4 linked regions of the Homo sapiens genome follow. The protein of the gene in region 3 purifies or fractionates together with the protein of the main gene of each other region. This does not show direct contact. Each region holds a gene or a part of one and is shown on either strand. Other genes may lie near its edges.

Region 1 (3,500 bases), on a different chromosome or scaffold from region 3:
AATCCCTCAAATATAAAGAAGGTATTAGTCAAGAAAATGTTAAATATATCTGGCAAAACTGATAAACATGAACTCTATATTAGTCATTTGTTTCTTTTTTCCTTTGTAAATACTTCAACATACACAGTAATAGTGACATCTGCTGAGAAAGGCTGGAGTTGCTCCCATGACTGCTGCCACTCATGAGTCAGAGGCATGTTCAGGATTAACAAGTGAAGATAATTCATATTCCAGAGTCCCTTCCCCCCTTCAAAAGAGACACACACAAATTCCGAGTTGGGACTTGAACTTGGCCTACTGCTCCCACCCCAAAGCAGCATAACACTATAGCCTTAGGCAGTCTCTATGGGGAGACTGGACTATTATAAATGATATCCAGAGTTAAGCTATTAATAGGAACAGAAATGATTATTTTTAACTCCCACATTGATTACTATTCTTTTCATCTTGGGAATCAGAAAAGCATCTTAAAATAGAAAAGTTATTTTAAAACTTTTTAAAGTGTAAGCTGAATTCAGCTACTTAAGCAGTTTCAATACCCACAGAAAACTTAAGAACCATTTTAAAATTAGAATCCATCAGTGGAACTCTTGGGCTGGCTAAAATGCCTTAAAGAATAGCAGGGTATCCATACTCATATGCACTTCAGTTTGCTACACAACTTCTGCTCCTGTCATGAGGAATGTGGTACTTAAACCACACTGATACCTGAAATTACGAGCTAAAGGCTTTGGATTTTCATTAACAAAAATCAGCTCCGTCATTAAGGTCTATTTTTTCCTTCCCCAGGAAGACGGGAAAACATTTCTTAAATGTATGTGAAAACCTATACTAGTTTAGCATTAGGTTTTAAAAACAAGAGTTTCTTCTGTGACACTGGCAAATGTGTTATTCTTTAACCTCCACAATGGTCACAAAGACGCTCACTGTAAATGACCTTTTAAATTGTACATGTTTTGCATATTCTTTGACATGAACCATGTATTTCACAATTAAAAAACAAAAAATTGGCTCACGCTTATAATCCCAGCACTTTGGGAGGACGAGGCGGGCAGATCACGAGGTTAGGAGATTAAGACCATCCTGGCCAACATGGTGAAACCCCGTCTCTACTAAAATACAAAAATTAGCTGGGCGTGGTGGCCCCTGCCTGTAATCCCAGTTACTCGGGAGGCTGAGGCAGGAGAAATGCTTGAACCAGGGAGTTGGAGGTTGCAGTGAGCCGAGATCACGCCATTGCACTCCAGCCTGGTAACAGGGCAAGGCTGTGTCTCATAAAAAAAACTGAGGTAAAAATCAACTATGAAATTGGCCACACAAATTTATACTTCATTTTTAATGTACCTACCATTTCAATGAAATTACTCAGCTCCCCTAACTCCAAGTTACATTAGATATACAATACAATAATAATTCAGACCAAACATAAAAATGGAATACACCTCATTACTAATGTGGTTGTCTGGAAGGAAATAAAGGAAATATTTTAAGATATTAACAAAAAAGAAAAAGAAATATGAATTAAATAGCTTAGTTATTGATTAAAAAAAAACTCCTTAAACTTTAATGAGATCACCATTTTTTAAAGAATTTATCTTGGCCAAGCATGGTAGCTCACACCTATAATCCCAGCACTTTGGGAGGCTGCAGCAGGAGGATTGCTTGAGCCCAGGAGTTTGAGACCAGCCAAACCTCATCTCTAAAAAAAATTTTTTTTAATTAGGCAGTCACAGTGGCATGTGCCTGTGGGTAGTCCCAGCTACTGGGGAGGCGGAGGCAGGAGAACTGCTTGGGCTTAGGAGTTGGAGGTTACAGTGAGCCATTATGGCACCACTGCACTCTAGCCTGGGTGACAGAACAAGACCTTACCTCAAAACAAAACAAAACAAAACAAAAAAAACAAAAGAAAAAATCAAAAGTATTTATTTTGTTATAGCTCCAAGAGTTCCCAATAAAGAACACCTTACACGCTTAGCTTTTAGTCTTCAGGATCTCTCCTAGGCATCAACTGTAGGAGAACTGATAAAGAGAACCCATTTTAAAAAAATGAAATGCAGAATGTTACCAGCATATAAGCTGGAATTCTCCAAGTTGCGAACACGACCCAAACTGAAGGCCACAAAACAGGGTAAAGTAATGGGGCCAGGGAGGGGAGGAGTGTGTGTGTGCATTAATCACATCACTATGATAATATGTATGTATTTCAAAATTTTAAAAACATATACATTGTGAAATCTGCTGTTACCACCAGAAGTCACTAGTCGAAGAGAATTAAGGTTTCAAAAGGTGAGAACACATGGACACACAGGGGAACAATACACACTGGGGTCCGTCAGAGGCTGGAGGGTGAGAGATGGGAGAGGATCAGGAAAAGTGGGTACAAACCCTCCATGACACAAGTTTACCTATGTAACAAGCCTGCACATGTACCCCTGAACTTGAAAGTTTAAAAATAAAATAAAATAAACTTCAAAAGCGATGCCTTTAAATATAATACCTAACCACAACTGAGCTTTATTGTGTTTGAGCCCCCAGGAGCCACAGCTTAGGGAGCTATAAAATTAGCAAACAGAAGAGTACGGACACTCCTTATTTCAAAACAGCAACATGTGCAGCATTTTTCTAAAGATAACAGAAGAAACTCATTACTACAGTAAAGCATTCCAGGATTGGTGCACACTTTAAATCTATCAGTCAAAAGAGAAAAAAAGGGACAATTGTACATTTCCTTTTTCTTCATACTTGTCAATAAAATTTCACTGTCCGATTTCCAAGAAAGATAAAAAAGTATTAGTCATTTGAAATAGGTTATTAATATACTGAACTATGCTTCTAAGATGTCGTTTCTCATAGTAATAATATTACTGCTAGTAAGAAGTGAAATGTATGTTCAAGATGTACAGCGCAGCTTGGCTGTTTGACTTACCAGGATATTGTCTGGCTTGATATCTGCATGTAGGATATTGCATCTTTTAAGGAGTTTCAATGCCAGGAACAACTGCTGACTATAGGATCTTACAGCTTTAATATGAAGACCAACATCTTTACCATATTTTTTTAACACCTCTCGTAAGTTCATGCTTTTAGGAGAAAATTAAAAAAAGAAAACAAAATAGGAGTTAAAATGCAAAATGGAAATATAAAAAGGCAAAAACATTTGCAAGCATAAAGTAAAATCAAGCGCAAAATAAAAATATGTAAGAACCACCCCCACATTTGATAAATCATTTTATATTGAAAGGAGAGCATATCAAATTGTATGTATATAACACAGTTTCTGAATAAATTCAAATTTTCTAAATAGGTAAGAAGAAAGATATGCAAGGTAAAACTCCCATTTCGATTTTAGAATAGATTCACATCTGAAAACACAACAAAGCCACACTGTTGAAGATAAAAATTCCTTCCTTGAAGTATTTCATTTTAAGAGAGACTCTCTGTTGAACCCGGGAGGTGGAGGTTGCAGCGAGCCAAGACTGCACCACTGTACTCCGGGAGGA
Region 2 (3,500 bases), on a different chromosome or scaffold from region 3:
CCACATCCAAACATTTTTTTTCCCTTTCTCTTTTGTCTTGGGCTCAAACTTAAATTCATGTTTAATCTATGAAAGCAAAACAATCTTCAAAACAGGCCATAAAGCCGGGCGCGGTGGCTCACGCCTGTAATCCCAGCACTTTGGGAGGCCAAGGTGGGCGGATAACCTGAGGTCAGGAGTTCGAGACTAGCTTGGCCAACATGGTGAAACCCCATCTCTACTAAAAATACAAAAATTAGCCAGGCTTGGTGGCACATGCCTAAAATCCTAGCTATTGGGAGGCTGAGCCAGGAGAATCGTTTGAACTTGGGAGGCGGAGGTTGCAGTGAGCCAAGATCACACCACTGCACTCCAGCCTGGGTGACAGAGTAAGACTCTGTCACCAAAAAAAAAAAAAAAAAAAAAAAAAAAAAAAAATATATATATATATATATATATATATATATATATATATATTTATATGTATATATGTGTGTATATATATATACACTATATATATATAATTTAAGTAAAACAAAAAAGACTAAATGGATGTAAGAAATTCATATTTTAGAGCTTGTCTTGTACTACTGGTAGGGGGCACAGTTATAGCTATTAGGAAATAATGATTTCGGTTTCCAACTGAAATCATAGTCAAGGTGAAAGAGACAGTAGGCACTTTTATTTGAAACCTTTTAGCTATTAAGGACATAAGAGGTTATTTCAAAATGAGGGCCATGAATAAGGGAGTAAGAAAAAGAAGTAGAATAATCTTGATCAGATCACAATTTTCTGAGACTTTTCTAGTTTCAATGAAAATTTAAATTACAATGGAGATCTTAAAAATTAGCCTCTTATCGAGTATCTTTTATTTAAACTATGGTAGGCACAAGATTATAGGTTTTATCTCAAAGATACTACTGGTTATATGGATTTTTTTTTTTTTTTTTTGAGACACAGTCTTGCTCTGTCACCCAGGGTGGAGTGCAGTGGCACAACCTTGGCTCACTGCAATCTCCGCCTCCCAGGTTCAAGCAATTCTCCTGCCTCAACCTCCTGAGTAGCTAAGATTACAGGCGCGTATCACCACACAGGCTAATTTTTTTATTTTTAGTAGAGACAAGGTCTCACCATGTTGGACAGGCTGGTCTTGAACTCCTGGCCTCAAGTGATCTGCATGCCCTGGCCTCCCAAACTGCCGGGATTACAGGCGTGAGCCACCATGCCTGGCCTGGTTATATGAGTTTCAAAGAATGGTACAGAATCACAATCCTGAGTTCACTTTATAATGTCTATTTTGCCCTGTCCAAACTTCTATATATAGGAGACCTATGCCTTACCTTCACTCTCTGAGCTGGAAAGTCTTCGCTTGTGTACTCGCCTTATTTCTTTACCACGTCGCAAACTCTTCTGGGAACCGTCACTTTCTGAGTCTTCTTTGTAGTTAATTTGTCTTTTCTGATTTCTCCTTGACCGCCTTCGCCGAGTTTCTACAAAATCATCACTAAAATCATCACTGAAGTCACTTTCTATTTTAAAAAAAGGAAGAACAAAGTACAAAATTTAAGTCTATTTAGAAATGTAGCTTAGGTTATAAAAATGAAAAGCTACCAAGCAGAGTTCAGTCATAAATATTTTTAAGTGAACAGTAACTTTTATGAGTCTCATTTTATTTGAGAGAGTATCTCACTATCACACAGGCTGGAGTGCAGTGGCATGAACATGACTCACTACAGCCTCAACCTCCTGGGCTCAAGAGATCCTTTGGCCTCAGCTGCCCCAGTAGCTAAAGCTAGGATCACAGGCATATGCACTACCACTCCTGGCTACCTACCAAAGTGTTGAGATTACCACATGCCTGGCCTTTAAGTCTCCCTTAAAAAAAAAAAAAATGACTCAATCTGTGCAGGTTTTTAATGCCAAACCTCACAATATATACTCTTAGCGGTGAATCCTCAAGATTAGAAAATGTTTTATCCTTTTTAGTTTGTTTGTTTTTGAGACAGAGTCTCACTATGTCGCCCAGGCTGGAGTGCAGTGGCATGATCTTGGCTCACTGCAAACTCCACTTCCCGGGTTCAAGCAATTCCCCTGCCTCAGCCTTCCGAGTAGCTGGGACTACAGGTACCCGCCACCACATCTGGCTAATTTTTGTATTTTTAGTAGAGATGGGGTTTCGCCATGTTGGCCAGGCTGGTCTTGAATTCCTGGCCTCAAGTGATCCGCCTGCCTCGGCCTCCCAAAGTGCTGGGATTACAGGTGTGAGCCACCACACCCAGCCTAAATGTTTTATACTTTTTTAGAAATAGTCCTTACTGCAGTCGACCTACAGCTACCTGGTCAGGTACACAGCTGCCATGACTGCTCTTCTTGGTAGACGGCTACCACAAATCCGCCTCCTGATAATATGCTGTTCTACCTGTCACTATAGTCATAATGTATTGCAGAGGTTATGCCCTCTAACCAAAGAAAACTCATGAATCTGTTCCACATAAATACAGAACTCAAGATATATTTTTGACTCTTCTCCATAAAGAATACAAATCTGCTAAATAAAGCACACAGACCTAGTTAAACTTGCAAAGCACTGCTAAATAGCATTGTTCCTGTCATCTCTGATCAATAAGCCAGAGTGAGGCTGTGGCATTATGTCACAGCTGTTTTTCAGAATGTTAAATTCCACCGAAGTACGACATTCAAGCTTGTTATTCTTTTGTGGATTTCAAACATTTCAAAATAGCTAGCCAATAGGTTGAAGTGGTTCTCATTGGCCAAATTTGGGACAAATGGAGCCTAAATAGTGATGGGAATGTAGTATATCCACTGATCAGAATAAGAATCCACGAGTTTACACTGTCATAAATAAACAAACATATGGAGGAGAAGGGAAATGTTCTTCCTTACAGAACAACAATAAATAAATATAACAGAAATGACAGAGTTAGAATTATCCACAGGAACTAAAACTAGCAGGTGAAATATAAGGAAAAGGATATTTAAATAGTCTCAAATTCCCACAAATTACTTATTAATTATAAGGAAAAATAATAAAGAGACTCAGAAGATGCAACATTCTCTGTGCTATTCCCACTATAAATGCATAATCTGAATCTTATCACAAGGAAACAAAAGAAATCAAAACTGGGAAACATCTACAAAACAACTAGTATGTACTCTTTAAAAATATCAAGATGAGACAAAATTTGAGGATTATTCCAGATTAATGGAGACTAAAGAGATGTGAATAAACGCATAGCCCTGGAATGGATCCTGGGTTAGGAAAAGAAAAAAAAGATATAAAGAATAATATGGAGATACTTGTTAAAAATTTGAATGTGTACTGTTAATTAGGTAATAGCATTATATCAATGTTAAAATATCTGAATTTGGTAATTGCATTGTGGTGATGTAAGAAAATGTCCTTGTCCTTAGGAAATAATCACTGATAAAGGGGCATGATATTATCATCACTTATTTAGATGGTTTAGGAAAAAAGATAAATAAAACCAAAAAAAACCCAC
Region 3 (3,500 bases):
CACTGTGTTACCATTAACAGAAAGGTTAAAATTCCAATGATGTCAAATTTTCCTACGTCAAATGGACCCAACCACAGGAATCAAAGATATTTTTCTTTTTTGTATTCTTATTCCCTCACACTGAAGTTTCTATTAGGTATTACACTATTATCTGATTATAAAATAGTTTACACTGTAACCATCAAAGATTTGGGGAAAAAAGCACTAAAATAACTAAAGCAGAATACCCTGTTCCTACCACTGTGTACAAACTTATCTGCTAGGCCAGCATTTAAAATTTTACAAACTATCCAGCAAGAATGCTAATAGAAAAGTGACAAACCTGAAAATATGGCTTCTTTCAAATATAGTAACATGTGGGAGAACTTCCTGATATCATTCACCAACTCCTTGATGTAATCCGGATCAAAAATAGAGTTGGAACTTAAGGACTTGAGCCCCATTTCAGAAGTTGTAATATCAGTAGAGAGTTGACCTGATGCCCAAGCACGTTTTTTCTTTGTCTTTTTCTGTTTGTGAGCAATCATCCTTTCATGTAACAGTCAGAAAAACTGAAATCCTTAAGGGGGCAAGAAACAAAACAAAAACAAGCGAGGAGAGAGAAAGAAACACAAAAACTAAATCAGCCAGGGAAATATTACACTAGATTTTCACAAACAGCCCACAGCTCACCTTGGTATCCTATTTTTAAATTTTTAAAAATCAAAAATCAATAATCAATCACTGTATTATTGATAATAGCAGTTTCCATTTATTAAATACCAGTAATTCCGACAACTCTGACATGCAAACTACTGTTCTTTACATTTCACAAATGAGGAACCTGAGGTTTAGAGGTTAAAAATTTGCCTTAAGCTCTCAACTGATAATGAACTAGGACTTAAACCTGTATCTGCCTTGATGCCAAAATCCATGCTCTTAATAACTTCCTCTTGATTCCTAGGGTATAGAATTTTATTTAATTGTAAAAGTTGTTCTGAAACATCACTTAGTAGAAGGTCATATTCTCCTTCCATGACATCACCTTCAAAAATAAAGATGAGATATGGGCTTTGAAAAAAGAAATACCTGTTCTTAAAATCCTCCTCTGTCACTTATTGTATGATCTATTCATCTCTTTACTTCAGTATGCTCATTTATAAAATGGGAGTAACATCCTGACAACACCTATCTCATGAGATTGTAGGGATTACATGACGCGATGATACAGAAGTGTCGAGAACATAGAAGTTCAATTACAGTTAGTTTTTCCTAATAATGCATATACATACATATACACAGACACACACACACAACACATCCTGGATTACCAAGTCTCATCAAGGATATTTCTTTGTTGAAAATAAGTTACAAGGGTGCCCACTAATCTGACATACTCTGACTGGTTAAATAAACACGTGTGATCATCAGAGCAATATTTTTGATAATCTCAGGATGGTAGTAAAAAGGTAATCTTTTGGTATGAGAAGAATTTAGATTTGAATCCTGGCTCTAGTATTTTCTAGATATGTGACCAGTACAATTTATTTACAGGCTTGTGTGAGGATGAAAAGGGATCACAAAATTAGAAGACTTCATATGTTAAAACACCTAATACTGGCACATAGCTGGAACTCAAGAAAATCATAGTTATTTTCTTCTTCACCCTCATTTTACCTTTCCAGAGTTAAAAGTTCTAATCTTGTTTGTATCTCTGGAAATCAAAAAGGAAATAACCGGAGGAATTAAATTAACTCACACTTTATTATTAACACTTTTTTTCAAGTATTTTGTCTTGAATATTTGGCTACTTTAAAAATGGTAGATGACTAAGGACTTCTATAAAATTTACAGTAGAAAGTTTTTTGGTTTTTTTTTTTTTTGGAGGGGGGAAGGGTTGAGTCTGGGTCTCACGCTATCACCCAGGTTGGAGTGCAGTGGTGTGATTATAGCTCACTGCAGCCTCAAACTCCTGGGCTCGGGCCATCTGCCCGCCAAAGCCACCCATGTAGCTGGGACTCCAGGGGCACAACACCACACCTAGCTAGCTAAAAAAAAAATTTTTTTTTTGTAGAGATACAGTTTCACTATGTTGCCCAGGTTGGTCTCAAACTCCTGGGCTCAAGTGATCCTCCTACCTCAGCCTAGCTAAATGCTGGGATTACAAGCATGAGCCACCATGCCTGGCCCACTAGGAAGTTTTATGTAATATCCGTTTCTAGTCATATGTAAGATACATTATTGTATCATTTACTCCTTCCTATATCTCACCCAACTCCATAGTTCATTTTTCTTTCTGATCTACAGGGTTCTCTAATCAACCCACTTCTCTCTACTGCTACCACACTAGTGAATTACCATCATTTCTTTTCTGAGCTACTATACTACTTTCCTAATGATCTATCTGCATCCATTCTTGTCTCATCACAAATGTAGTGAGTGAACATTTCAAACATAAATCTCATAATGTCATTTCTCTACTGAAAACCCTTCCAAAGTATAAGTGAGAAGCTATCATGCTCTACAAGGCTCAACATGAGATCTGGCTCCTACCTACCTGTGCAATGTCATATGGAGACACACCTGCTGGCTCTCAACACTCCTGCCACACACACCTCCTTCTCATTCTTCCAACAGTATTTGTTTACGATGACTCTCACCAGGAAATAATTTTACATAATAATACATGTTAAGTGTATTATGTTTGTGTGTGGCATGCTTCTGGGTAAGGCTCCATGGGATGTATGTGAGTTTTTAAAAATTCCATCCCATTTCATTTTTAAAAATGCTGGGTGCAACTCACCAACTTGGTTTCATACACATAATAGGTCATGACCCTACAGTTTGAAAAACACCAACTGTTCAGCTCAGGGTCCTGTCTATATGTAATTCTATTTGCCTGGAATATTCCTTCTCCTTTGTTTACTCACTCTGATCTCAGCTCAAAGCTTACCTCCTCAAAGAAACGTTCCTGGACCATCCCCATCCCCCAGCAAAACCACTACCATCAAACCAGAGTAGAATCTCCTGTGAGATGTTCCATAGTATCCTCTACTTTTCATCACTGCTCATACCACAGTTCAAATAGATCATGTCTTCCTAGCTAGAGTATAATCTCATGGAAATCAAGACCATGTATGTCTATTTGCTAACCATGTGTTCTCTGATCATAGCACAATGCTTGGCGTATGAGGAATGAACTACTTAGAACTATCTGCAGATAGGCTTATAAACTTATAAAGTTTCAATTAATTTTTATAGAAACAAAAATAACTCTGGGTTGTTGCAATGTTTTGAAGTGAAAATATAAATTTTTAAAAAACTCTCTAAAATGGTATGTTTCAAAAAGAAAAGTATATGAAGCTGAGGGAAGATTACATAAAACTGAAATCAAAGTTGGATTTCTATTATTGCTCCTCCTGATTATTAAACTGGGGACCACACTTTATAATTTTTAAAGTTTGTTTATTCACTGTCCTTTTGTCAATCTCAAATTATTTCTGAGAATCTAACTTCTACAT
Region 4 (3,500 bases), on a different chromosome or scaffold from region 3:
TCAACAATTAAATAAATTGGTAAGATAAAATGGTTTTCCTATTACTGTATGAGACGGTCCCCAACTTAGGATGGTTAGACTTGTAATTTTTTGACCTTACAATGAGTTCAGTGGGATGTAACCCTAGTGCAAGATGAGGAAAATCTGAACTTACAGTGGTTCCAACTACAATTTTTCAGCTTTACAATGGGTCTTCCGGGGTATTAAATGCATTTTTGACTTATGATATTTTCGACTTTGGGACATGATCTCATCCTAAGTCAAGGAGTATCTGTATTTCATCAGCCAAACTGAATAATCCAATAAATGACTAATTTAACTCACATTATATTTGTCCTGTAACTTTTTCTGCAAGGCTAAATTATACAGCACTTTTAATTAACATTTCTTCCCAAGGCCATTAATTTTAGTACATAGATCCCCTCCATGGATAGTTTTCCCAAAACCTTCTCTCTAAGCAGCAGCTCTGGAGTGTCCAAGAGGCTCACTCATTCAAAAGGGTTAACTCCTAAATTATAGGTCACAATGAATTAGCCAGTGAACAAATATTTTACACATCATAATTTAGGTAATTAGATTCTTCATATTTTTAAAAAGGGAAATTACTAAAAGATATCCAGGACTTAAAATAATGGAAAATTTTACCACTTGTCTGATAGAGTCATTGGATTAAAAGAAATTTACACATTCAAAAAGGCAAACAATGACCCCCATGATTAAATACAAATCAAAACTCCAAATTACTAGAAGCAAATCAAATCAACATTCAGATATTCAAATGCAAGGGGAAGGAGAAAGCACATCATAAAAACATTATAGAGAATAAAATGTTAACATAAATGCTGTCTGCATGGATCCTTCTAAATTTACTAAAACCAAGTAAACCTGGACTTCATTCTTCAAAGAAAAAAACATTTAAAAAACCAAAAATGTTGATGTTCAATGTTATGCATTTATATACTCACCATCCAAATTGATCAATGGTTCTGCATTTTTAGTTGCATTGTCAGCAGTTTTTGAATTATCAGGTACTAAATCCTTGTATTTTTCAGCTATAAAAACAGGCAAAAATATAATTTGTACAACTGCAACTCAAGGTAAAATGACTACTGCTATTTACCAAATTTAACTGAGCCAAAATGATTACAGGTTGAGTTTCCCTTACTGGAAATGCCAATAATTTCCAATTTTAAATTTTTTCAGACTTCGGATTATCTGCATATATAAAATGGGATATTTTGGGGATGGGACTGAAGTCTAAACACAAAATTCATTTTTATGTTCAATGTACAACTTATACACATAGCCTGAAGGTAATTTCATATAATATTTTTAATAATTTTGTGCATGAAATAAAGTTTGTGTTAAGTGCTTATGTGTGGAAATTTCTACTTGTGTCCTCATGTCAGTGCTCAAAAAGTTTTGGATTTTGGAGCATTTAGGATTTCAGATTCTCGGATTAGGGATGCTTAACCTGTATAAGCATAAAACAATTCATTCAATCAAGCTTAATTTTTGCTATAGAAAATGTAAAAAGACAATGTAACTATCTTTTTGATTAAGCTAAAGCAATTACTGGACTATGTGACACAAATATCTTTTCATTAACATTTCTAAAGGCAATCATTTCAAACATGTAAATTTTAGGAAGGTAAAAATCTGCTTTTACAGCTTCCTCTGAAATCTGGGGTAGAAGAATGGGAGGAGGGTTAAGTATAGGTTACGTAAGATTAAATACAAACTCATTAAAAAGTACGCTTCCCCCCATCTTCTTTTGAATGCTGTACATAAAATCCAAAAACCTTGCTTTCCCCAAAAAAATCAATACATCAAATACACCATCATATACAAACCTCAAACTTATTTCATGGAAACTTGAAATTCAGAATTCCAAAGGTAGATTTTATTATTTTCATTTGAAAAACAATACTTCAAAGGAATTCAAAAATAAAAACACTTATTAATAATTCACTAAACTTAATGTTCAAAATGGCATCTTAGGCTATACAGTGCTTATGGGATCTGTTAATGAAACGAGGAAAAAATAAAAGCATAAAATTTAAGTCAGAGTTAAAAAGGCTTCCACTGGCCAAATCTGGAACAGTATCAACAGCAAAATACGTGATGACAGAAAGGATTATAATCCATTGAATAAAATAAAAATCCATGTATCTATACTGATTTAAACAAGTAAATTAGAGATGGGAAAACTTACAAGAGAAAGCCAACAAATAAATGTAGAAAAAATGATGAAATTAGAGAACACCTTTTGTCGATTAACATAATAAATGACTGAGGCAAGAATCATCATATGGTTGCTAAAACTAGTGGGGGAAACTTGAGGCGCAAAAACATAATTGATACAGTCTCAAAGTACCTCCCCACAAGATATATTTATTACAAAGAGGAAAATAGTAACTTTACAGTGGAGAAACCATAACCTAGTGATCAAAGTAACATAACTAGTAATGGGACATATCGCTATCACGTATCTCCTAATATGATGCACTAAAAAGAACACATCACTTCTGTGTTACTCCTAACAAAAGTATAAACCCCAAATCTAATCATGAGGAAACATCATATAAATCCAAATTGAGGGACACTCTACAAAATAAATGTCAGGGTCATGAAGCACAAATAAAGACAGGAACTGTTCCAGATTTTAAGATACTAAGACAGATGTAACAACTAATGCGGTGCATAATCCAGGATTGCTCTGGGTTATTTTTTTCTTTCGAGAGAAGTGGGGGGTTTGGTAAAATGTGAATAAATAATAGTATATCAAAGATAACTTCCTGATTTTGATCACTGTACTGTGGTTATATAAGACAAAGTTGTTTTTAGGAAATGCACTTTAAAGTGTTTAAGAGTAAAAAGGAATCATCTATAATTTACTATCAAATGGTTTGGAAAAAAATGGTGTGTGCCTCTGTGTAGAGAGAAGGATGAAGCAAATGAGGTAACACGCTACATTTGTAGACTTGAGGTATATGAAAATCTTTGTACTATTTTGTAATTTTTCTATACATCTGAAATTATACATTTAAAAAATTTCAGTTATTGATCATGTTGACAAGCTACCAAAAGGCTTCAAAAAATAGTAGAGCGCAAATAATAAAAACTCACAATGGTTTCAGCAAATTTTAAAATAAGTAACTTAAAAGTCAAGGAGGCAACATATCAATGTAAAACCACAAAAGAACATCAGCGCCTCCTACCGATTAGAGACAGTATTATTTGACCAATTTTCAAGTCTGTTTTTGCAATTCTGAATTTTAATAAACAAAACTTGTTTTCTAGCTTAGACTTTTAATATACTTTTGATACCATTCACCTTCAAGTATATGTTGACTTCCTTTTTCAATATTGAAAAATTTACATTCCACACACAAGCTTCTTTTATTCACTAAAAGAACATGCTATTACTGAGAAATACATGTACTTACTAAAGTCAACTGCAGGTATACATGACCATATGCATCTACCATTGAAGGTTA

The links. The genes of interacting proteins can lie anywhere in the genome.
Region 1: the proteins of ARHGAP29 (region 3) and PRP4K purify together in Homo sapiens (affinity purification with mass spectrometry; one large-scale study listed by BioGRID and IntAct). This does not show direct contact.
Region 2: the proteins of ARHGAP29 (region 3) and RSF1 fractionate together in Homo sapiens (co-fractionation; one large-scale study listed by BioGRID). This does not show direct contact.
Region 4: the proteins of ARHGAP29 (region 3) and RTRAF purify together in Homo sapiens (affinity purification with mass spectrometry, with the first as the bait; one large-scale study listed by BioGRID). This does not show direct contact.

Annotation. Positions count from the first base shown.
Region 1 is NC_000006.12:4,052,300-4,055,799, reverse strand, and holds part of PRP4K (serine/threonine-protein kinase PRP4 homolog), read right to left. Parts: intron 3,081-3,500; coding exon 2,927-3,080; intron 248-2,926; coding exon of another isoform or gene 224-247; exon of another isoform or gene 1-223. UniProt on the Homo sapiens protein: Serine/threonine kinase involved in spliceosomal assembly as well as mitosis and signaling regulation. Connects chromatin mediated regulation of transcription and pre-mRNA splicing.
Region 2 is NC_000011.10:77,670,723-77,674,222, forward strand, and holds part of RSF1 (remodeling and spacing factor 1), read right to left. Parts: intron 1,509-3,500; coding exon 1,320-1,508; intron 1-1,319. UniProt on the Homo sapiens protein: Regulatory subunit of the ATP-dependent RSF-1 and RSF-5 ISWI chromatin-remodeling complexes, which form ordered nucleosome arrays on chromatin and facilitate access to DNA during DNA-templated processes such as DNA replication, transcription, and repair.
Region 3 is NC_000001.11:94,231,085-94,234,584, forward strand, and holds part of ARHGAP29 (rho GTPase-activating protein 29), read right to left. Parts: intron 560-3,500; 5' UTR 528-559; coding exon 323-527; intron 1-322. UniProt on the Homo sapiens protein: GTPase activator for the Rho-type GTPases by converting them to an inactive GDP-bound state. Has strong activity toward RHOA, and weaker activity toward RAC1 and CDC42. May act as a specific effector of RAP2A to regulate Rho.
Region 4 is NC_000014.9:51,996,046-51,999,545, reverse strand, and holds part of RTRAF (RNA transcription, translation and transport factor protein), read right to left. Parts: intron 1,053-3,500; coding exon 966-1,052; intron 1-965. UniProt on the Homo sapiens protein: RNA-binding protein involved in modulation of mRNA transcription by Polymerase II. Component of the tRNA-splicing ligase complex and is required for tRNA ligation.